2 linked regions of the Homo sapiens genome follow. The protein of the gene in region 2 binds, or shares a complex with, the protein of the main gene of each other region. Each region holds a gene or a part of one and is shown on either strand. Other genes may lie near its edges. The genes, in order: APOO and CHCHD3.

Region 1 (12,503 bases), on a different chromosome or scaffold from region 2:
AAAATGTTGGCCTGCTTAACTGGTATCCTAACCACAGTCCAGCTGCTTCTGCACTGGGCTGAATTCTTAGCACAGTCAGAGAATGCTGTTTCCAAGCCAGAGGCTCCCGCAGCCCTCACTTTAGCTTTGGTGTGCGTGTGTGTCTGCACAGACACCACAGTGAGCACTCCGGGGAGCCTGGGGGACTCCCTCTGGCTTTGGTGTGCTTCAGTCTGCAGTCACACCACAATGAAGGCTCGCAGTTGAGGCTTTTAGTCTCACTTTCCACATTTCTGTCTAGGGCTGTTTAGAGATTTCTTGATATTTTACTTCCTTTCCCATATAAAATTTAGTGTGCATTTGTTTTTTTGCTTGTTTGTTTTTGTTTTTTTGAGATGAAGTCTCGCTCTGTTGCCCAGGCTAGAGTACAGTGGCGCAATCTTGGCTGACTGCAACCTCTGCCTCCTGGGTTCAAGCAATTCTCCTGCCTCAGCCTCCTGAGTAGCCGGGATTACAGACGTGCATCACCATGCCCAGCTAATTTTTGTATTTTTTTAGTAGAGACAGGGTTTCATCATGTTGGCCAGGCTGGTCTGGAACTCCCGACCTCAGGTGCTCCACCCGCCTCGGCCTCCCAAAGTGCTGGGATTACAGGCATGAGCCACCGCACCTGGCCGCATTTGTTAAGGAATTTTTTAAAAAGGAAAGGAAGCTTCCATAGAAAATATCAGAGAAATAAAACAAAAAACAATCAAAAAAACAGGGATTGCCAAAAGACTCTTGATATTGGTATAGAATTTCCTATTCAAGAGCTAGTTTAAATAGGCTCGAGAAGGACTAATTCCTTTAGAAACCACCAGTATAAAAATTAGTGGGGTTTTTTTTCTTTTTTTCTTTTTTTTTTTTTTTGAGACAGGGCCTCACTGTGTTGCTCAAGCTGGAGTGCAGTGGCGCAATCATGGCTCACTCTATTTAGCCCTTACCTTCTGGGCTCAAGCAATCCTCCCACCTCAGCCTCCCAAAGTATGCCACCATGCCCAGCTAAATTTTTTATTTTTTGGAGAGATAGGGTCTCACTATGTTGCCTAGGCTGGTCTCAAACTCCTGAGCTCAAGTGATCCTCCCACCTTGGACTCCCAATGTGCTGGGCGTGAGTCACTGCACCTGGCCAAAAAATGAGTCTTAAGATTTCACTAGAAGATTATTTATGTAAATAATAAAGAGGGCTTATAATTTATTCTGTTACTTCCAAATCCCAGTTCAAAATTCTGGATTTTAATTCTGAGATAGTTATTTATATGTATTTTTTTAACTTGTCAATGATTTGAAGCTCAGTTATTTATTTTTTTTTAAAAAGTATTTTCATTGAAAAATGAACTTCCTTCAATCTGTGATGTAGAAGGTATATTAATATAAGAAGTCTAATTCTTCCTTAGCTGGCTGTGCCTCTGAGTGCTTAGTAGAGACATGATACCTTATTCTCTACTCATTCTTCCTTATCAGTGGGAGGAAGGGAATGTTCCAAGCGAACATAGGCAACATTTAATCGGCTATGTGGCCACTAAAAGAGATGAAAGGTGACAAGTTCTTACAATTACACAACTTCTTCCCTCTGTTGCTCATGTACTAGACAGCACAGAGAACGTGGCCTTTAGCTGGTAGCTAGTCCCCAACATACGATGGCTCACACCCTCAGCTGAGCTGAGAAGCCTGGGGGATAAACAGAAACAGCAGTGCTAAGGAAAGAACAGAACTCATGATAAGTGAAAAACCAAGAGGAAGAGGCTCTCAATTATGTCTTTTTCCTGGGAGCATAGTACATTCCCTTTGAATTCAGTTTCAATAAGACTTTTAAATAATACGCTACACTTAGAGGAAACTAGGAATACAATATAATGGAAAATATGGTCTAAGACTACGGTGGAATGCATTGCATTTTATGGTCACCACTTATTTGGCCCTGCTGATAATAACCAAATACTCAGAAGTTCTACTGCTCTACCAAGAAAGGTCACCTGAAAAATCTGAGCTGGAGACAGAACTAGAAGCAAACAGAAAAAGCAATAAATCAACAGGGTTATCAAATATTTTACAAAACCCTAGAGAAACCACATATTTAAACCAAAAGGAAGATAATGAAAAAGATGCTCCTCACCTTTTGAAAGTTCTCCTTCCACAAATCTTCTATGACTATATATCCTCGTAAACCCCAGTCATATAATCTCTCCCCACTGACCTTAAAACAAAATAGAAAAGATCTTACCATCTGACCCAGCAATCCCTATTATTGGGAATAATAATGGAATATAAATCATTTTACTATAAAGATATATGCATGCATATGTTCATCATAGCACTATGCATAATAGCAAAACATGGAATCAACCTAAATGCCCATCAATGGTAGATTTTTTTTTTTTTTTTGAGATGGAGTTTTCGCTCTTGTTGCCCAGGCTGGAGTGGAATGGCGCAATCTTGGCTCACTGCAACCTCTGCCTCCTGGGTTCAAGCAATTTTCTTGCCTCAGCCTCCCAAGTAGTTGGGATTACAGGCATGTGCCACCACACCCAGCTAATTTTTTGTATTTAGTAGAGACAGGGTTTCACCACATTGGTCAGGCTGGTCTCGAACTCCTGGCCTCAGGTGATCCACCTACCTCGGCCTTCCAAAGTGCTGGGATTACAGGCGTGGGCCAACATGCCCAGCCAATGGTAGACTTGATAAAGAAAATGTGGTACTTATACACCACAGAATACTATGCAGCCAAAAAGAATGAGCTCATGTCCTTTGCAGGGACAGGGATGGAGCTGGGGGCCATTATCTTAAGTGAACTAACATAGGAACAGAAAACCAAATACCACATGTTCTTACTTGTAATTGGGAACTAAACCTTGACAACACATGGACACAAAGAAGGGAACAGAGACCGAGGCCTACTTGAGGGTGGAGGGTGAGAAGAGGGCGAGGATCAAAAAACTACCCATCAGGTACTAGGCTTATTACCCGGGTAACAAAATAATCTGTACACCAAACCCTCATGACACACGATTTACAATAACAAACCTGCACATGTACACCTAACGCTAAAAGTTAAAAAAGAAAGAAATTTAAAAAAAAAAAAAAAAGACTCCTACTCTGGGGACAGCCACATATGCTTCTCAACGAGCAACCAAGTTCACCCTCTCCACTCTAGCTATTTACTGCTTAAACCATAACAGGCTGAAATAATGTTTAATTATTTTTATATCTAGGGCTGGAAGATGTTACTCACTGTTCCTGACCTGGGGCTGGAGCAGGGACAGAAGCATTAACTATCTGCCTCCAGGACTGTTACAAACAATGTTGAGCAAATGCTGGAAAGTACTGGTATTTGTCATCAAAGCCATCAAGCTCCCCAAGCTGGGGCCACTGGACTCTCACATACAACTGTAGCCCAATCAAGGAATCTGGATTCAATACTGTCATGAACAACCAAGGAAGCTCAGTCTCAGGTCAGTCTGGCTCAGAGTCCAATTTGGGTGACTGCACTGCTGTCTGCTCCTGGAACTGAGTTTCCATGTGATGTGGTAGTTCCAGCAGCTAAAGTCCCTGTGTCCACAATCTGCCCAGGACCTCAAAACCTAGAGCCTGTCTTGTTCTTACCAGTTCCTGAGGGACACCATCTCTAGAGTCCCACTCACTCCAGATATCACCCTTTTCAGGCTACCTACTGGTCTCCATCAGTGGTTCTCAAACACCATAGGCATTAATAACAAACCACCGGAGGGCTTGCTAAAACACAGACTGCTGGCCCTTACTCCCAGAGCTTCTGATTCAGTCAGTCTGGGGTGGGGCCTGAGAGTTTGCATTTCTAACAAGTTCTCAGGTGATGCTGCTGCTTCTGGTCTGGTAACACATTTTAAGAATCGGTGGTACAGCTTTATCCATGTTGCCTGCCACCGTGATAGACCTGCTTGCCAGGGTACCATAAGACTGAGGCTTCAAGGATAAGAAAGGAGCAGCCAACTGAAAGCCCCGAAAAGGGCACTCCAAGCAGAGGGGATTACAGTCCCCAAAGTCCCCAGCAAGGAAAGCAAGGGCACCAGTACTAGGGAGGAGTGGAAGTCAGAGTAGTCTGGGTCTACAATACCAACGAGAGCAGGTTGTGACCGGACATGCATAAACTGAGTGACCCATAATTATCAGCTTTGGAATTTGAGTCTCTAGACTTCCATGTAAGTATACAAAAAATGTATATTAAATTTTTGCTGATGAACATTCAAACAATCACGCAAATTCGTGTTCAAATTCTGTGAACACTGGCATTACTGGAAGAAGGGCCAGAACTGAGGCATATAGTGGAGAAAATCATTTAAATTTTCTGTATTCATCTATATGTACAAACAAATTTTAGTCTGGTGTTATAAGAACTGCAAAATAAAATAAAATTAAGCATCAGATTCATACACACACAAACAAGAATGAGGGACATCATGGATTACAGAGTTTCTCTTACCTGGGCAAACACGATGGCTTGTTGTGGATAATAGAGGGAGGCAGCTAATCCCATGAAACCAGGCGGATACACTAGCTTCTTTATTTTTGAACCTGATAAATAAAAGGTTGTACACGCCATCAGATGATTCATTATCCTCACCATCACAATTTACCTTATCCATTTAATACGGAACAAGGCCAGGCACAGTGGCTCACGCCTATAATCCAAAAGCTCTGGGAGGCCGAGGCGGGAGGATCACTTGAGGCCAGGAGTTTGACACCAGCCTGGGCAACATAGTCAGATCCTGTCTCTACAAAGATTAAAATAAAAAAATTAGCCAGGCGTGGTAGTGTGTGCCTATAGTCCTAGCTACTTGGGAGGCTGAGGTGGGAGGATTCCTTGATCCCAGGAGTTCGAGGTTACAATGAGCTATGATCACACCTCTAAACTCCAGCCTGGGTGACAGAGCAAGACCGTGTCTCTTAAGAAACCCAAACAACAAAACCAAAATAACCCCACCACTGAATAAGATTTCTTTGGTCCTAAACTGAAAGAATGTGCCAAATAAAGTCATGTGCACCAAAACGCTTTTGCACTGCTTTATTGAGATAAAATTCATATTCACCCATTTAAAGTACAGTTCAATGGCTTTTAGTATATTGACAGAGGTGTGTAACCATCATTACAATTAACTTTAGAGCTTTTTCATAATCACTAAAAGAAACCCATTAGCAGTCATTCCTCAACTCCCCCGTACCGTCCAGCCCTAGGCAACCATTGATCTACTTTCTATCTCTATGTGTTTGCCTACTCTGGATATTTCTTTTTTTTTTTTTTGAGACAGAGTTTTGCTCTTGTCACCCAGGCTGGAGTGCAATGGCGCAATCTTGGCTCACTGCAACCTCTGCCTCTCGGGTTCAGGCAATTCTCTTGCCTCAGCCTCTCGAGTAGCTGGGGTTACAGGCACACGCCACCATGCCCGGCTAATTTTGTATTTTTAGTAGGCATGGGGTTTCGCCATGCTGGCCAGGCTGGTCTCGAACTCCTGACCTCAGGTGATCCACCCGCCACGGCCTCCCAAAGTGCTGGGATTACAGGTGTAAGCCGCTGCGCCCGGCCCTCTGGGTATTTCATATAAATGGAATCATGCAGTAAATATACGGTCCTTTGTGACTGGCTTCTTTCACTCAGCACCAAGTGTTTTCAAAAGAACACCTTTTTTTCCCTAAGAGAGCAGAAAAAAAGATTATTTTAAAAATAAACAAATGAGTATTTTGGTTTCTAGGGTTTATGTTCTTTTATAGCAATCTGGCTTCCTATATAAATACTAAACACAAGCGTTCTTCTTCTCCCCTTTCTGCAACCCCGTTAAAAAAACAGTAAGAAAAAACATTAATAAACCCACAATGAAGAGAAAATGTGTGGAAGGGCCACTGGCAGAAAGGAAGTGTCAATCAATTTTCAGAAAATGGAGAGTGAACGGAAATAAGAGGACACACTGCCTTGAAATCTTGAAATCTTGAGGAGGAGTGCAGCCTCAGAGGGAGCAGATCTGTCCCAGGCAGCCCCAGGGAGATTCCAGATCCAGAGATGGCAGGTACCATGGGGAGTGGAGATGGCAACCAGGGAGCAAGACAAGGGCACAGGACAAACGCAAGTCCGATGCATGGACCAGCATGGCCTTTCCTTCCCCTATGCCATCCCAGTACAAAACTACCCCTGGCCAGGAAGTCACACCAGTTCAAAATGTTAAAAAACCCAGTAAACCAGGGTTACTGGGTGTGGTGGCTCACACCTGTAATCCTAGCACTTGGGGAGGTCGAGGCATAAGGATTGCTTGAGGCCAGGAATTGAGACCAGCTGGAGTAACATAGCGAGACTCCATCTCCATTTCTTTTTTTTCTGTTGAGAGAGGGCCTCACTCGGTCTCCCAGGCTGGAGTGCAGTGGCACAATCATGGCTCACTGCAGCCTCGACCTCCCAGGTTCAAACTATCTTCCTGCCTCAGCCCCTCAAGTAGGTGGGACAAGAGGTGCAAGCCATCATGCCTGGCTAATTTTTTTTTTTTCTGTAGTTTTTGTAGACACGGGGTTTCCTCATGTTGCCCAGGTTGGTCTTGAACTCCTGAGCTCAAGCAATCCACCTGCCTCAGCCTCCCAAAGTGCTGGGATCACAGGCATGAGCCAGTACGCCCAGCCCCCCATCTCTATTCCTTTAAAAAAAAAAAAAAAATGAGCCTGATGCAGTGGCTCACACCTGTAATCCCAGCACTTTGGGAGGCTGAGGTGGGAGGACTGATTGAGCCCAGGAGTTTGAGACCAGCCTGGGCAACTTAGGGAGACCACATCTCTACAAAAAATTAAAAAATTAGTAAGGTGTGGTGGCATGTGCCTGTGGTCCTAGCTACTCAGGAGGCTGAGGCTGGAGGATTGCTTGAGCCCAGGAGTTCAAGGCTACTGTGAGCTGTGTCTATGCCACTGCACTCCAGCCTGGGTGATAATTTGGATGTTGTTCTCTCTGAATCTCATGTTAAATTGTAATCCCCAATGTTGGAGGTGGGGCCTGGTGGGACGTGACCTGATCATGAAGGTGGATTTCTCACAGATGGTTTAACACCATTCCCTTGGTGCTGTCCTTGTGCAACAGTGAGTTCTCTTGAGATCTGGTTGTTTAAAAATGTGTGACACCTCCCCCACCTCTTTCTCTTGCTCGCACTCTTGCCATGTGAGACACCAGCTCCCCCTTTGCCTTCCACCATGATTGCAAGCAGCCCAAGGCCTCACCAGAAGCCGAGGAGATGCTGGTGCCATGCTTCCTGTACAGCCTGCAGAACTGTGAGCCAACTAAACCTCTTTTCTTTATAAATTACCCAGTGTTAGGTTATAGCAATGCAAGAATGGCCTAACACATTGGGTGATAAAGCAAGATCCTGTCTCAAAAAAAAAAAAAAAAAAAAAAGAGTTAAAACAGTGGGGGCAGGGTATCACTAAAGAAACACCATGGATTTCCTGCTGAGAACCAAGAGAGCTGGAAGGGGTGAGTATGTCAGTGCCTGAGAGAAAAGCCCTCCTCACACTGGCCCTGGGTGCACCCTTGTATATGGTCACTTCCTGCCCAGCTCCCCTGAGGTAGAACCTGCCCGTCAGTGGGCCCCATGTACAGACAGGGAGTTCTTTTTTTTTTTTTTTTTTTTTTCCCGAGACGGAGTCTTGCTCTGTTGCTCAGGTTGGAGTGCAGTGGCGTGATCTCAGCTCACTGCAACCTCTGCCTCCTGGGTTCAAGTGATTCTCTAGCCTCAGCCTCCTGAGTAGCTAGGATTACAGACACCCTCCACCACACCCGGCTATTTTTTGTATTTTTAGTAGAGATGGGGTTTTCCCATGTTGGCCAGGCTGGTCTTGAACTCCTGACCTCAGGTGATCCGCCTGCCTCAGCCTCCCAAAGTGCTGGGATTACAGGTGAAAGAGTTCTTATTAGCATTTCAGCTGCCTCACTTTGAAACATGACTGGATAACCAAGAATCACCAGTCATTTGTGGAAAGCCTGAAACATAAAGGAGAAAGACCAAGACAAGCACAAAGGAAACAGAAGAACTTCAAAACAAAACTAAACCTATTACTAAGTATCATCAAATAAATTTTAAAAGCCACTACATTAAAAGAAAAAAATAATTCTATGAAAAAAAGAACATTCAAAGAACAGGAAGGAGCTCTTGGAAATGACCAAAGCAAAAAAAATTCAAAAGGAACAAAATAAAATAATCAAGAAAATATAAGAGACACATAGGGTCCTTTTAAATAACTCAATTGCTAATTAATGCGTTGAGGAAGGAAAAAGAATGAGAGTAAATTTTCAAAGATACACAAGATAGGCTGGGCGCAGTGGCTCATGCCTATAATCCTAGCGCTTTGGGAGGCTGAAGAAGGAAGACTGCTTGAGCTCGGGAGTTTGAGACCAGCCTGGGCAACATGGTGACACCCGGTCTCCACAAAAAAAAAAATTAGTCAGGTGTGGTGGTGCATGCCTATAGTCGCAGCTACTCAGGAGGCTGAGATGGGAGGATTGCTTGAGCCTGAGGAGGTCAAGACTGCAGTGAGCCCTGATCATGCCACTGCACTACAACCTGGGTGACAGAGTGAGATCATCTCTCAGAAAGAAAAGAGAAGAGAAGAGAAGAGAAAGGGACGGGACGAGAAGGGAAGGAAGAAGGAGGGAAGGGAAGGGAGAAGGAGGGAGGGGAGGGAGGGATGCAGGGGATGGAAGGGGAGGGAGGAGGGAAGGGGAGGGAGAAGGAGGGAAGGGGAGAGAGGGAGGGGAGGGCAGGGAAGGGAGAAGGAGGGAGGGAGGGAGGAAAAGAAGATATTTTCCTTCAGCTGGATGCTGCAAGCCGCCATATTGTTTGGGCAAGAATGAAAACACTATATCCAAGGCTGGGCATGGTGGCTCATGCCTGTAATCCCAGCACTTTGGGAGGCTGAGGCGGGTGGATCACTGGAGGTCAGGAGTTCAAGACCAGCCTGGCCAACATGGTGAAACCCCATCTCTACTAAAACCACAAAAATTAGCCAGGCGTGGTGGTGCACGCCTGTAATCCCAGCTAACTGGGAGGTTGAGGCGTGAGAATCACTTGAACCCAGAGGTGGAGGAGGTTGCAGTGAGCGGAGATTGTGACACTGCACTCCAGCCTGGGTGACAGAGTGAGACTCCGTCTCAAAAAAAAAGAAAAGACTTCTATCTAGTCACAGCACCAAAGAAATTCAGAACACTAAAGATTCACAGAAGATCTTCAAAGCTTCCAGGAAGAAAAAAAAAATGTATCACCTGTTCAGAAGCAGCAAATATCCAGAATGGCTACTGACTCTCACATCTACAACGCCAGATGCTAGAATACATGGCTTTGAAAGTTTTGATGGCAAACAAAATTCAGTGCCCAACCAAACTGTCACATGGTATGAGGGCAGAAAGTGATTTTCAGACATGGAAGGTCTTGGGAAGTTTACCTCCAACATACGCTTTTTTGAAAGTGACTTAAGCATGTAGTTCAACAGCACGGCAGAGTAAACCAAGGAGAAGATGACATGGAACCCAGGAAAAGGGGGCTTAAACCCAAGAAAGTGTGAAGAAGACCAGTCCCAAAACAAGAACTGTGTTGAAGTCTCAGGCCAGATTGTAGGAGGATATAGAGCTGTGGAGCAAGGGAAATGGACAGAAGAGACAGCAGGACACAGAGCCTGGAGAAACCTGAGAATGAGGTTAAAAAAACCAGTAGAGGATGAAACTAGAGAATACACATGGCCTTGACTCCACTGAGAGGCATAGTGTTTTTTGCTGTGGGACCCATATAGATGCTAGCAGAATGTGTGTGTTATTGATTTTTTTTTTTTTTTTTGAGATGGAGTTTTGCTCTTGCTGCCCAGGCTGGAGTGCAATGGTGCAATCTCGGCTCACTGCAATCTCCACCTCTTGGGTTCAAGTGATTCTCCTGCCTCAGCCTCCCAAGAATCTGGGATTACAGGTATGCGCCACCATGCCCAAATAATTTTGTATTTTTAGTAGAGACAGGGTTTCACTATGTTGGTCAGTCTGGTCTCGAACTCCTGACCTCAGGTGATCCACCCACCTCAGCCTCCCAAAGTGCTGGGATTACAGGTGTTAGCCACCATACCCGGCTGATTTGTTTGTTTGTTTGTTTGTTTTGAGATGGGGTCTCGCTCTGTTGCTCAGGCTGGAGTGCAGTGGTGCGATCTCGGCTTGCTGCAACCTCTGCCTCCCGGGTTCAAGTGATTCTCCTGCTTTCGCCTCCCAAGTAGCTGGGATTACAGGCACCCGCCACCACGCCTGGCTAATGTTTGTATTTTTAGTAGAGACGGGTTTCACCATGTTGGCTAGGCTAGTCTTGAACTCCTGACCTCAGGTGATACATCCGCCTTGAACTTCTGAAGTGCTGGGATTACAGGTGTGAGCCACTGTACCCCGACAGAATGTGTACATTAATCCTTAAACGGTTCTAATCACATAAGTACTGTTTATTGGCTTTAAAACTTTAAACAGAGAAATCCCCAACGATGGAACTGGGACTGCTGAAGAGAATACAAATGTTATCAACCTAGACTATTAATGATTTACTGTTTCTCTCCTGATCCTGTTGCATGAATTGAAAGGGTATAATTATCCTAGAAGAGAAAAGCCTGTGATATCCCTGCATATGGCCCCTCCCCTGCCCCCATCCACTTGAAGCAGCTCACCCAAGTGAGGACCAGGGAAAGAGCAGCCAACCTGCCACCCAGTCATTTCTCACTCCTCCAGGGAGAGCCGAGAAGTGGCAGCTCTCGGGCCTCCAGCTCCTGCTGGTTCACACAATGAGCCAGAGACCCAAGAACTTCAGGAAGGAGGTGTAATCATACTCCCCTGCCCCCACCTCCATGCCCTATCTCCCAAGAGGCCAGTGGTACAGGTTGTCACTATCAGCACTGCCAGGGGCGGGGGGAACCACTGGTGGCCAATGCTGGGGAGAGCCACCAGAAGGCAACAATAGTGTCAACAACCACGTGTCATCTTGGAGTGGTCTGGCTGGGCCCACTTCCTCTGAATGGACATCCATTCACCTCTCTGAGAGCCTCTTGTCACCACCACAGTTGTGGCAATCCTCAACAACTGAAGCAGACTACCTTAGCAGATACGCTCAAGAAACCCCACCAGGCCAGGCACAGTGGCTCACAACTATGATCCCAGCACTTTGGGAGGCTGAGGTGGGAGGATCACTTGAGGTCAGGAGTTCGAGACAAGCCTGGTCAACATGGTGAAACCTCGTGTCTACTAAAAATACAAAAATGAGCTGGGCATGGTGGTGCACGCCTGTAGTCCCAGCTACTCGGGAGGCTGAGGCAGGAGAATCACCCGAACCCAGGAGGCAGGGTTGCAGTGAGGCTGAGATGGCGCCACTGCACTCCAGTCTCGGCAACAGAGCAAGACTGTCTCAAAAAAAAAAAAAAGAAACTCCTATCAGGAGGGACCTTCTGCACCCACCCACCCTGCTGCTGCCCTCAAAGGGGCCCATTCACCTGGAGGGGCCTGCAAACCATTCTGGCTACCCACAGACATCCCTATCACCCCACTCATCTTGCTTGGTGAACCCCTCTGATGCTGCTCACCTCAGGTCTTTCTATACCCAACGCTCAGGAGAAAAGACCTGCTATTGCACATGTGTGTGTGCGTGCCTGTGTGAATATTTGTGAAAAAGAATTAAGGTGTCAAATTATTTTAATACTACCAAGCTCTCCCCAGGAAAAGGAAGAAAAGAGACAGAACGAACAAACAAAATCAGAGGACTAGGACCCACTGTAGCAGATGTCCTCATGCTGCTGCTCTGGCCAGGAGAGCACCATCTCCAATCCTCCTTAGGATGGTCATCCTAGTGGATGTTCCAGGGACAAGCTCTCGGCACTGTAGGAACGTACCCACAGCACAGAAAAAGTGCTTTCTTTGGACCTGGAAGATTTTCCCACATGCTCTAACCAGGAGAGGGAGGGGGAAGCTCCTCTCACTCACTTCTACATTCCTATCTCCCTAACGATAGCTGAAATCCCAACACCCTGGCCTTGGGATGTTCATCAATCTCAAACGCTATCTAAATAAGACCGAATGCTCTTCTGAACAGCTTTGCAAGAAATGAGGTGAAAGAAGTTTAGGGAAAAATGTTGGTTCATAAGTTGATTACAAAAATAAGCTGGAAATTTAATTCTGACATATTCTGCATGAGATGGGAGGAGGGCACAAAGACTGTGACATGAGTTGCTTCCACAGGTGAGCTGGTAGTGCCACCAGGGCAGTGTCTACCCTCCAGATTCAAAAATAACAGCCATTAGCTGGGTGCGGCAGCTCATGCCTATAATCCCAGCACTTTGGGGGACACCAAGGGAGGTGGATGGCTTGAGTTCAGGAGTTCAAGAGTTCAAGAGTTCAGGAGTTCAGCCTGAGCAACATAGCGAAACTCCGTCTCTACTAAAAATACAAAAATTACCTGGGCATGGTGGCAGGCGCCTGTAAT
Region 2 (12,503 bases):
GCCTCTGGATAAAGTCAACTGATTAAAATGCTGGCATCACTCAGTGCTGAGTAGAGGAAGGGGCTGGTATACTCTTCCAGAATCTAGAGTGGGATTAACAGCTTCCCCAGCTAAAGCAATTCTTCCAAAGGGGAAAGTTTTGATCTGATCCTATTTTAAAACTTCAACAACAGGGCCATCATGACTTTGCCCTTCAAAGAGCTTCAATAAAGCTAGCTGCTAAAACAACTGTGGGAAGAAAAAGCCTGGACTCACATCTAAGGAGACAGAAACCTAAATGTCAGCTGTTAGTGAGCCAGAAAGATGTGGGGGGTGTGGGGTAAGGGGTGGGAATCGTTTTATTTCACAGTCCCAACATCACATCAGCTCCCGTGCTTTCACCCTCGCTCTCCTGAAAGACAACTTTTTAATTACTTCACATGTGTGAAACACAATCTTTACTTTCCTGCAGACTGCAACATTTGAGTTCTAAATAAAGAGGAACGAAGCAATGCTTGGCCATTACTCAAAGAGTCCCACATATTAGAATTAAGAATGGCAGCAATAGGGGCCCTCCAAAATAGCAGGAGCAATGCTAACCTTTCTGGGGTGACTCCCACATCAATTATGGGTTCTGAAGATGCCCACCTCTCCAGCTGGGGATCAAGGAACTAACAAACAACAGCAGGCTTGCGATCACTGTCCACACCGCACAGTACTGGTTTGGAGGGTGGTGGGATACATAATCTGAGACCCTAAAGCATGTATAAAATATATACATATGGGGAAGGGAGAAAGAACTTTATACCTCTAAACATTAATGATAGATGACAGAATTATAACAATACTGATTTTCTTTGTAATTTTTTGTTTTCCAAGTGTTCTATAATATTCTTGTATTAATTTAGTAATTAGTGGAAAACTCAGTGAAACACAACCATTAAAATGTGACCACACAAAAACGTATTTATCAGTATAAAAACTTTTACCACATGGCCTAAATGTTTTAATGTGAAGGTTATTGTAACAGTTATACAAAAGAGTGTATACTATTATCTATGTTTGGAGAAATACCGTTATACACATAAAATCAAATGTTTTATACCAACTCAGTGGGAAGTAAAAAGGAATATAAACACAACAAACCAAAATGTTAACAGTAACTATCTCTGAATTGTAGTACATTGAGTGATTTTAGTATCCCTTTGTATTTATTTTCTAATCTTGATCCAATGAATATGTATGTCTTCCATAATAATAAATAACAACAATAAAGGGAGAAATCTGGTAAATAAATTGGGAACTGCCCAATAACTAAATGTCACTGGCAGCCATGTTGCTGTGGCCATGGCAGACCATGCAAATGTCTGACAACACTCTGGGAAGGAAGGGACTCTCTCAATCAGCTGTCATCCTATGGCATAAATTCCACTTTTATTCCCTAAGTGCTTTGAGGGCTCTATTTGGCAAATATTACAACAGATGCTGAAATACAGGAGTTGTGAGTACTACAATTTGTCATCTATACCACACAACCAGAATCTGTAAATAAGAGATCTACAAATCAGAATGTACGAGGCCAGTTTCTCATGCTTCACCAGCTACACAAAGCAGTAAAGACAGACAATAGACAAGATTTATTAGGTAAAACAGAACAGACTGCAGATATGCTATTCCAATCAAAACATGTTGCTTAATATTTTAGTTATGTTGAGTAACAAATCTTTTGATACTTTCACATTTTTTTGTGAAATCTCTTTTTATGTCTTGCTGAGTGTGTGTATATATTTAATGAGTTTTTTGAGTTTTTGAATCTTGCTGGTCTCCATAAACTAAGAGAGTAAGACAGTATGTCCAAATTCAGGCAAAAAGAGGTGGAGAAAGAGTGCTTCAAAGATAAGATTCAAAAGAGTAAAAGCTGGGAGGCAAAGAGAAATGCCAACCAAGGTATTCTTCTGCCCGCTGGAAACTAAGAGTTTTGCTCTCGTACCTTCCTCAAACATGAGCACTATTAACCTCCTCCACTACATCCTTAGCTTCCAAATTTGGAGACTTTAATATACATAGAAATGACTTTTCAACCCACTGACCTGATATTTTTTCAGCTTCCTCAAAAAATCCTTCAGCTTAGACGTACAACAAATTTAATTTTCAGTTGAGTTACTCAAAACTTACTGTCTTTAATTCTGAAATTATTCCCCTTTCACAATGACTGACTTTGCTTCCACCTCTCTTATTCCCTTTGTTCCACTCAACACATGTACTGTTCTTAGGGCAGCTGCCAGTCAGTCCACTGACATTTCTTTCTTGGTCTACCACCTCTATTCTGGCTTCACTATTTGCCCATGCAACCGGGACCCCAGATTTGTCACTGAAGAAACTGATTCATTACGCATGGACTTCCTTTCATGTTCTCTGTTTGCAGCTGGTCATGGGTTGGTCTTTCAGAGAAGTGACTAAGGTAAAGAATGGGAGAGACTAGAAATGAGCCTTCTTCTTAGAAAGTTTTAGTGTTTCCCAATTGCCTAGTGAACTAGGAAAATCCCCCTCACTCTTCAGTTCAAAGTTCTCCATTCCATGGTCCCATTTTCCCTGTCCAGTGAGTTCCCAACTGTGCTCCAATGAGGACTAAAGGTTCCGAGGAGTAACATCTGGGTTTCTAGGAAGGCCGAAGTGGAGGCTAAGCAGTCAACACTCCAGGTTTCACCCAGAGCAGCTCCACTTTTATCTATCAAATAACAATAAGAAATTGCTTAATAAATTATGTTGAATACAAAAGGCAGAACATTATTCAGCCATTAAAAACTACATTTCAGAAAAATGTTCAGTGACATAGGAAAATGTTCATGAGGCTTAACACCATCTATAGCATTATCTAAATGTTTCAATATGTTAAAAAGCCTAGAAAAAAATAATCTCGAGGAAAACACACACTGGTGTAAACCATGGTTATATCAGAAAGACAGATTGATGGGTGTCTTTTAAACCTTCTTCTGTCTGTTAGTAATACTTTTAAAGACAACAACAAAAACATGTCTATGTAATCTTTTAAAAGATTAAAAAATATTTTCTTTTTAAAAAAATTATCTTAGAAAAGACTGTTCCCCAAGGCCCTGGCTCTACATTTTCTCTTCCCTAAACCCCAGGCAGTGATTGATCAAACCTTACTCACCTTTGCCAGAGTCTTCCAGACTAACATCTGGTAGTTGCCAGCCACGAGAGAAAGAAGCCTACATTGCTGACCCCTGAGGTTTCAAAGACAATAAAACCAAAGGCAAAGGACAAAAAAAGAAGACAGGCCGGGCTCGGTGGCTCACACCTGTAATCCCAGCAGTTTGGGAAGCCGAGGCGGGTGGATCACATGGTCAGGAGTTCAAGACCAGCCTGGCCAAGATAGTGAAACCCCGTCTCTACTATAAATACAAAAATTAGCTGGGCACGATGGCAGGTGCCTATAATCTCAGCTACTCGGGAGGCTGAGGCTGGAGAATCACTTGAACCCCGGAGGCGGAGGTTGCAGTGAGCTGAGATCGCACCACTGCACTCTAGCCTAGGCGACAGAGCAAGACTCCGTCTCAAAAAAAAAAAGGAAAGAAAAAGAAAAAAAAGCAGACAACAATCCTTCAGGTGTGAAACATGTACACATGTCTGCATGTTGGTCTTCAATACTTCCAGAGTTACCTGCCTTTAAAGTCCTTGATGGTTAAACCTAAACTGTAAGCTACTTATAAAAGGCAAAAATCAAAATCTGAGCAAAGAGAACATGAATAATATTATCAACACTAAAAGCTGGCACAGAGTACTTAGCTCTTCCCAAACATCAGAGATTTCCTTGTAGGCAAGAAAATTTCTCCTACATTTTTAATACTCACCAGGTGCTTTGCCTTAGCGCGTTCCTCCTCGCTACATATCCTCTCCCGAAGGATGGCTCTGGTTAACTGCTCATTGGCAGCAGCCCTCTCTCGGTCCAGCTCTTTGGCTTGCTTTAGTCTAAAATGACAAGAATTGTCTAAGTTAGAAAAAATATTTTATTAGTTGACATTATTTTCTATCAAATGAAATAATTTAAAAATAGAAACACATAGCCAAAAAGGTCAACAGCTGAAATCATCTTGGCCCATAATCTATCAAAAAAGCAGGTATAGAGGTAAATCCCCATGCAGCCTCCACTCAAGCATTTCAAATAACCAAATTCAAATACATGAAGAAGCTTATTAATTTGGCTGCCAAATATAACTAAGTTTTACAAAGTTCTTCTTATGTAAAATTAAAATCTGCCCACCAAAAAAATTCCATCCCTGGTGCTTCCATTTGGCCTCTGAAAATTTAAGTAATTAACAAACCATCTAGGCCAGGCGTGGTGGCAGCTCACACCTGTAATCCCAGCACTTTGGGAGACCAAGGCAAGTGGACCACTTGAGGTCAGGAGTTCAAGACCAGCCTGGCCAACATGGTGAAACCCCGTCTCTACTAAAAATACAAAACTTCGCTGGGCGTGGTGATACATTCCTGTAATCCCAGCTACCTGGGAGGCTGAGGCAGGAGAACTGCTTGAGCCTGGGAGGTAGAGGACGCAGTGAGCTGAGATCATGCCACTGCATTCTAGCCTGGGCGAATGAGACTCCGTTTAAAAAAAAAAAAAAAAGCCATCTACATGACAAATATTTGAAGGTAACCATCGTCTCTTTCTCCAAACTTACTCAACTCGTCCATTTACTGAATGCACACCAGGCACTGTGCTAGGCATTGAGGACACAGCGATAAACAAGATGGACAGGTCACTGTCATTGTGGATGTTACAGCACAGCAGAGAAGCCAGACATTATGGAACTAATAAGGACATCTTTCCTCCCAGTATATTACCCCTATTTTCCAACAATCCTCATATGCAAATATGACCACGCCTTTCAACTGCAGGGCTCCTCACTTCTGGAATGACTCCAATCGATCTGTTAGCTCCAAACTAAACCTAACCCTCCAGACATGCTCTAGCAAACTAAGACAGGAGAATCTTACTTCCCTAGATCTGTACACAATACTAATTCTATTAATGAAGCATAAGATTGCATTAGATTTCTCAGTAGCCTCATCACACAATTAGATCATATTAAGTTACAACCCACTAAAACCCCTCATTGTACATGATAAAGATAAATTACTTTGGCACTGATTTTTGCCATAGTGCCTGGCACATAGAGGCATTCAGTAATCACTGAATCACTGAAGATTTCAGTCTAATCTCATGAACAAAGATTTTCTGACTGCCTTTTCTTCTTTGAGAGAATAACCCTACTATACCATCATATCCCTGAAGGTATAGCTATGCTTTAAAAAGGAAAAGTAAAATTGTTATGTTGGTGTAAGTGAAATTCTGAGTGAAATCTACTTTATACGTGTGAATGATGAGCACCAAATTCTACTCAGTACTAGCTTATCAAATTTTAGTTTTAAAAAGATTTTTGAAAAAAACTAGAGATAAAATTTTGTGTTACTATTTTTAAATTGCTACATCATCCTGATACTCTGGAATTCTCAGAAATCAACTACAACAGAAAAAAAAAAGTCACCTTGTGAGATATATTCCAAAGTTATCATCCTTTTCCCCTAAAAATCAAAGCTGTGTAGTTTTGTGTCTTAAATAAAAAAAAAGAGGACTAGAAACAAGTTAAAATCTGTATTTCGAAATTCTCTAATGCAAAAGTAACCTTTGGGAAACTTCCTAAGCAATAAGCACAATGACACTCATACAAACCAAATTTCTCTAAATTATTTCACAAGGACCATACAATAAATTCAGCAACATCAATGATATCAACACATTAACACCACTGGATATGTGTAATTGTAAGAGAACAGCAATAATTAGAAGTCACACCACTTCCTAGAACAGCAGTTCTAAAACTACAGTCCACAAACCAGCTGCAGTAGCATCAGCTGGGAGTCTGTTAGAAATGCAGCTTCTCTGATTCCATCCCACACTTGCTGAATCAGAAACTCTAGGGATAGTGCCTAGCAAACTGTCTTTTCATAAGCCCTCTAGAATTCTGATGCATGCTAAAGTTTAAGACTACAGCCCTTAATTACCAAAATACACTTGTACTCAAATAAATCCTGGAGGTAAATGAAAGTAACATCAAAAATGAAGTGCTCCCCATGAGAATATTGTGCAAATAACTGCTGAGGTTATCATATCAGATTACAATACTGTATTTAACGCATTTGTATGGACATCTTACCCCTAAGTAAAAAAGCATTACCTATTTTTACCAGTGAGGTGGAAACTAAAATAAAATAATAAAATTACTATCATTTATGGATCAACTACTAAGCACTGTGCTAGGCACTTTACAAACATATATAAAATGTTTATTCAAATTCTATTATTAGTTCATGAACATAAAATGAATTCTGTTCAACTGAATTATCACATCTACCACATTTGGTGTATCTAATTTTAAAGTACTGTTTAAAAATTACTACTTTTTTTTTCCATTTTAGTTTACTTATGTATGGCTTAGATTTTAATTACATATGGAGTTCTACATGGTTCAACTTTAAGAAATACAGGATCATAAGGATTTTGGCAAGTTAATGAAAAAGAAGCAAAACATGAGCACAAAAGCCTTCAATGTGATAATAAAAATAAACATATTTAGCTTGCCATGACTGGTACAGATATGCAAACTCTGGGTCCAAATCAAGGCTCTAAACTTCCTATCTGAATAAGTACTTTATTTAATCTCCGGTGAGTCCTGTTATTCTCATGGGTAAAATGAAATAGTGTAATACCTACCTTACAGCGTTCTATATAAACAAGGCACTCAGCACAATGCCCATAACATAATATACACTCAATAAATGTTAGGTAAGTAGCAGTAATAATAATAGTACCCACTATGCGGGTAGGAATACAGAGAAAGCAGTGATTTTACGAAATGAAGAAGACAATCTCCAAATTCACTAACTACAATGCCATCTCCATCATCTTTTCCAATTTTTCACCAATAAATTCTGCTTTATTTTTATGATCTCTAAGGACTTCTAAAATCACAAATTGACTCTACTAACTCCAGCAGCTAGACCCTTTCACAAGCTGCTTCCTTTCCCTCTTGTCCATAGCTCCATAAGGACAACGATTTGCCCTATTTTTGTTCACTGCTATATCCCCCATACTTATAAAAGTGCCTGCCACATATCAAACACGCAAGAAAAAGTTGTTGATGTATGCATGTGTGAATGAATGAATGAATAAATAAATAAATGGCATATTTCTAACCACAAACAAAACAAGGAAAACAAACTGCAAAAGAACACAAGGCGATGGTATATAAGAAACAACTAACGAGACAAACTGTATCCTCCAAGGGCTTAGCCACCATGTTAGATGTGGCACATCTGTGATATAATCCCAGGCTACATTAAATAGCCTACAACAGGAGGTGCCACAACAGTCCAGAGCCCCTCCAACATCAACACCTAACTATATTTGACACCTGGATTGAAAGAGGATTGGCAGTGGTGCAAACTGACTAAAAAGAATATTATTTTCCTTTCTTAATAAATTCTTATACTTTCATTCATCCTTACAAATAGAACTGCACAAATTCTCAAATGTTTTTAAAGGAATGTTTATAAATTTTAAAAAAACTTTTTTTAAGGTCTGTATGGTGACTGTTTAAGAAACCAAATTTTTTGTCATCAGGGAGTTTGGCAGTAGGACTCTGAACAAATTCTCATTTCCTATCAACAACTTAGCTGTACAATCTAATAAGCCTCAGTTTCCTCAGTTTTAAAATTTGAAGGTTGAACTACTATATAATCTTATGGTCCTTTGCATATAAACATTCTAAAAAGTCTATACCTTAAACATATTATTCCTCATTCCATAAAAAATCTTGAAAAAGGTGGTGGCAGGGGATAAATAAAACAGAGGGGCATTATATTATCTCCCAGCTTGATACTGTTATAATTTCTACTCGATGGGCACATATACTTCTACTGTAATCCTGAGATTTCTCACTACAGTACTCAACAAAAACTACACACTGGAATTCATAAATTTATTCAGTATATAATTACTAGGTGAAAGGGACTACTCTGGTTACTGAGAATGAAGTAGTGAGCAAGAGACACAGTCCCTACTTTCATGAGCCATGATTACAAATAACAGATGCATTATTTTTAAAAAGTTAGGTAGGTATCTATGACACTGCATGGGTGGGACTGATATTTAACTTGAGCTCTACAGGACATTAACTGAGCAACATGGGGAAGGAGAAAGTGTCTTAGGCAGAGGAAACATCAGTTGGGTCCAGAAGCACCAAGAAAGGATTTCCTTCAGTTAGATTCCTGTGACACTTAGAAGGGTCTCTGAGGCATGAAATCACCTCTGCAAAGAATTTTACTTGCTTTCAGATTCTCTTGGAGGACAGAGTTTCAATGGTATACTGACTGAGGTTCAGTTTTGACCAGTGCCCAAAGATGAGAAGCTTCTAAGTTGTACCATTTCCCATTTAAAAGCAATAGATTTGAAACTTCAAAATTGTACCATTCTCCATTTCCCCAACCCTCCCCTCCAAAATATTGCATGGCAATTATTTTCTTCTAAGTTTCCTCTTTCAATGGTTCCTGTAAATTCTTTACTGAGCCAAAACCACTTTGCAAAGAAAAACTGCTTATGTTTTCAGAAACCCCCAATTACTTTCAAAGCTTCCTCTCTGGCCCCTTGGTTTTATACCGCATGGAGCTATACTATTCAACAGCCATCTGCAAAAGGTAGATGAGCTGTCAACCAATTTTTCTCTTTTTGAACCAAATAAGACAGCCCTGCCATCTGGGCCTCTCTGAAAACTACTGCCCAGATAGTGGAGCTATAAAATCAGAAGCCATGTTGTTTTGGGAACACTTCACTAAGGAGAGAAGACCCAGGCTCTCACTGACCAAGGGAAGGCAGGACTTTATATGTAAAGGCAGGAGATAAAATAAGTCTCTCATTATTAACTTGGGTTTCCAAAGATTTAAGAATTATCTCAAAACAAAACTAAACATGCCAAGTATCTTAGAGAATACATTCCTTTTTTATTTATTGGCATTTCCCACTTAATATTTTAGATCTCCTGCTCTAATATATTCTACATTAAGTCCCTGATTTAAGTTTCATTTAAATTTCTTTCTTTTAAATACATATCTCTCCTCATTTAAATTCTCTAGAGTTTCAAGCAAAGAAGTAGGAGTTTAGTGTAAACTTTTCTTGTTTGCATTAAGTAATTGGATAGCTTGCCTAAGCTTAATGAAACAAATACCAGTCAGTGCTGCCCTTAGACCTCAAGCCCTAGCAACTTAGCTCTTTCCTCAGTATATTGTCAATCAGGCGAGGGACTTAAGGTACACCAGCAAAATGAATTCCTAAAAGCCAGCCAAATCTCCTATAATAAATATTATTACATGTCCTTTTAAATGGGAAAACAAATTAACTACTTATAAAACATTCAACTTTCATGGACAGCAGGTATAAAATCTAGTTCTCTATATTTTAGTCCCAGGGTAAAAACTAGCCAGTTTGACTTTACTCTAAAGAACCTCAAGTTTTTAAGAAAGTAGAAAGAGAATTTTAAAGATAACTTTAGCAAGGCATTAACATATTGAACTTCATTCACCTCCATAAGGGAGGCATTACTAGCTCTAGTTTTTTTGTTTTTTGTTTTTTTGAAACATGGTCTTGCTCTCTTGCCCAGGCTGGAGTGCAGTGGCATGATCTCGGCTCACTGCAACCTCTGCCTCCCAGGCTCAAGCAATCCTCTTGCCTTAGCCTCCCAAGCAGTTGGGACCACAGTTGCATGCCACCAAGCCTGGCTGATTTTTGGGTTGTTTTTTTTTTTGTGGAGACGAGGTTTCAGCATGTTGTCCACATGGTCTTGAACTGGGCTCAAGTGGTCTTGAACTGGGCTCAAGTGATCTGTCCACCTCAGCCTCCCAAAGTGCTGAGATTACAAGCACAAGTCACCACACCAGCTACTATCTCCATTTTTAACATGAGAAAAACTGAGAAGTACAACAGAGGTGTGAAAGATGGTGATCTGACTTCCAAAGTCATACTTCTTAAACATCTTAAAGAGTAAACTTTCCTATAGGAATTAGTTTCCATTATACTACTCACCTTTGTGGTCATGTAAGGACAGTTTTTAAATCTTACATTATTCACGGTTATTTTAAAATAGGCTCTTTTAAAATTTGTGTATACTACACTAAGTCAGAGTTTGCCAGAGTCTAAATTATTACCACCCCTTTCCCAAAGTGGTTTGGCTTTTAATGGCCCTAAATGTTTTTCTGAATTTGGATACTGCTCATTTGGCCATTCACAAATACTCAGATTTATCTTCATGTAGGTTGACACATAAGTAATTCTATACAATTCTAGCTTAGAAAATTACTTTATAAATGTAATACATAAGGCCATTACACTATGGAGAGAAAGTTGATAAGAACTTCAGATAATGGGTAAGAATAAATGGGAAACGGAGATTGCTAGAGATAAAGTGATTTGACTAAATGACTTATCTAAAGTTGAACCGTGACCGTTATACATAGGCAATATATACAAGATACTGCAATGCACTTGATGCAGAAAGGCTATTTCAAACACTGAAAGAGAAAAATGAGTGACGACAACCTCAAAGGTCATTTTAATGCTAACAATGAATTTTATTTTAACGCATCATATTTTGTCAGAACCTGCCGAACCAGCATTCAAGATACTGTTTACCATCCATTTTTAAACAGAAGAGCTAAGCTGGGTAATTCAATGAAGTAATTATTAGACTATTAAAAATAAGGACAAAACACGTATACAGTTTTTGATTAATAAGACTTGACAAAAATAAGGGAACAGAGAAGCTTAACACTTCTCAGCTCAAATCGTTTCAAATCCTGGAAGAAAATATATGTGGATTGAGATTCCAAAATAAATACATAAACATGAATATGGCATCTTAATTTTTCTTTTTTTTGAGACGGAGTCTCACTCTGTCTCCCAGGCTAGAGTGCAGTGGTGTGATCTTGGCTCACTGGAACCTCCACCTCCGGGATTCAAGCGATTCTCCTGCCTCAGTCTCCCAAGTAGCTGGGATTACAGGCATGTGCCACCATGCCTGGCTAATTTTTGTATTTTTAGTAAAGACAAGGTTTCACCATGTTGGCCAGGCTGGTCTTGAACTCCTGACCTCAGGTGATCCACCCACCTCAGCCTCCCAGAGTGCTAGGATTACAGGCGAAAGCCACCACACCCAGCCTAAATTCATATATAATATCTGCATGTGTGACAGAAAAAGAGTTAGCATTTATTATGCTTACTCGTACCAGGTACAACTGTAAGCATTTGATGGGTGTAACTCATTTAATCCTCACAACAACCCTATTAAATCAATTATATTTCGGATGAAAAGCTGAGGCACAGAGAAATTATGTAAAATTGAGGCCTACAGAACTTTTAAGTACAGCTGAACCTTCAATAACACACGTTTGGACTGTGTAGAACCACATATGTGCATTTTTTTTTCAATAAATATATTGAACATTTTTTTGAAGACTTGTAGCAATTTGATAAAACTCACAGATGAATCACATATCTATAAATATAAATAAATTTTTAAAGTATGTCATGAATGCATAAAATATGTTGATTCTGGTCAGTTTTATCATTCACTATCATAAAATATATACGAATCTATTATTAAAAAGTTAAAATTGGCCAGGCGCGGCAGCTCATGCCTGTAATCCCAGCACTTTGGGAGGCAAGACGGGTGGATTACCTGAGGTCAGGAGTTCGAGACCAGCCTAGCCAACATGGCGAAACCCCATCTCCATTAAAAATACAAAAAATTAGCCAGGCATGGTGGTAGCACCTGTAATCCCAGCTACTCGGGAGGCTGAGGCAAGGAGAATTGCTTAAACCCGGGAGGCAGAGGTTGCAGTGAGCTGAGATCACGCCATTGCACTCCAGCCTGGGTGACAGACCGAGACTCTATCTCAAACAAAAAGTTAAAATGTATCAAAATGTATGCACACAAACAGACTGTACATGGCACCATCTGCAGTGGACGGAAACGTAAACAGAGGTAAAGATGCAGTATTAAGTCATAACTGCATAAAATTAACTATAGTACATACTGTATTGCTATAATTCAGTAGGCACCTCCTGTTGCTATTGTAGCGAGCTCAGGAGTTACGAGTATCTGCTTAACACACTGTGATGCTAATCATCGAGTGAGCAGTTAGTCTCTCCAGTAAATTGCATACTGCAGTAAAAAGTGATCTTTTGAGGTTCTCGTGTATTTTTCATTGTTTATTACAATACCATAACTTTGCATCACATCATGGGACCCATACAAAGTGTCACTAGTGATGCTAGAAGTGCTCCCGAGAAGCAGAGAAAAGTCATGACATTAGAGGAAAAAAAAGTTGAATTGCTTGGTAAGTACCATAGATTGAGGTCTGCAGCTGCAGTTTCCTGCCACTTTGAGATAAGT

The links.
Region 1: CHCHD3 (region 2) and APOO share a complex: the UniProt entries of both Homo sapiens proteins name them as parts of the mitochondrial contact site and cristae organizing system (MICOS) complex.

What each region holds. Positions count from the first base shown.
Region 1 is NC_000023.11:23,854,168-23,866,670, forward strand, and holds part of APOO (MICOS complex subunit MIC26 precursor), read right to left. Parts: intron 4,567-12,503; coding exon 4,475-4,566; intron 2,216-4,474; coding exon 2,135-2,215; intron 1-2,134. UniProt on the Homo sapiens protein: Component of the MICOS complex, a large protein complex of the mitochondrial inner membrane that plays crucial roles in the maintenance of crista junctions, inner membrane architecture, and formation of contact sites to the outer membrane.
Region 2 is NC_000007.14:132,971,318-132,983,820, forward strand, and holds part of CHCHD3 (MICOS complex subunit MIC19), read right to left. Parts: intron 3,970-12,503; coding exon 3,852-3,969; intron 2,708-3,851; coding exon of another isoform or gene 2,660-2,707; exon of another isoform or gene 2,111-2,659; intron 1-2,110. UniProt on the Homo sapiens protein: Component of the MICOS complex, a large protein complex of the mitochondrial inner membrane that plays crucial roles in the maintenance of crista junctions, inner membrane architecture, and formation of contact sites to the outer membrane.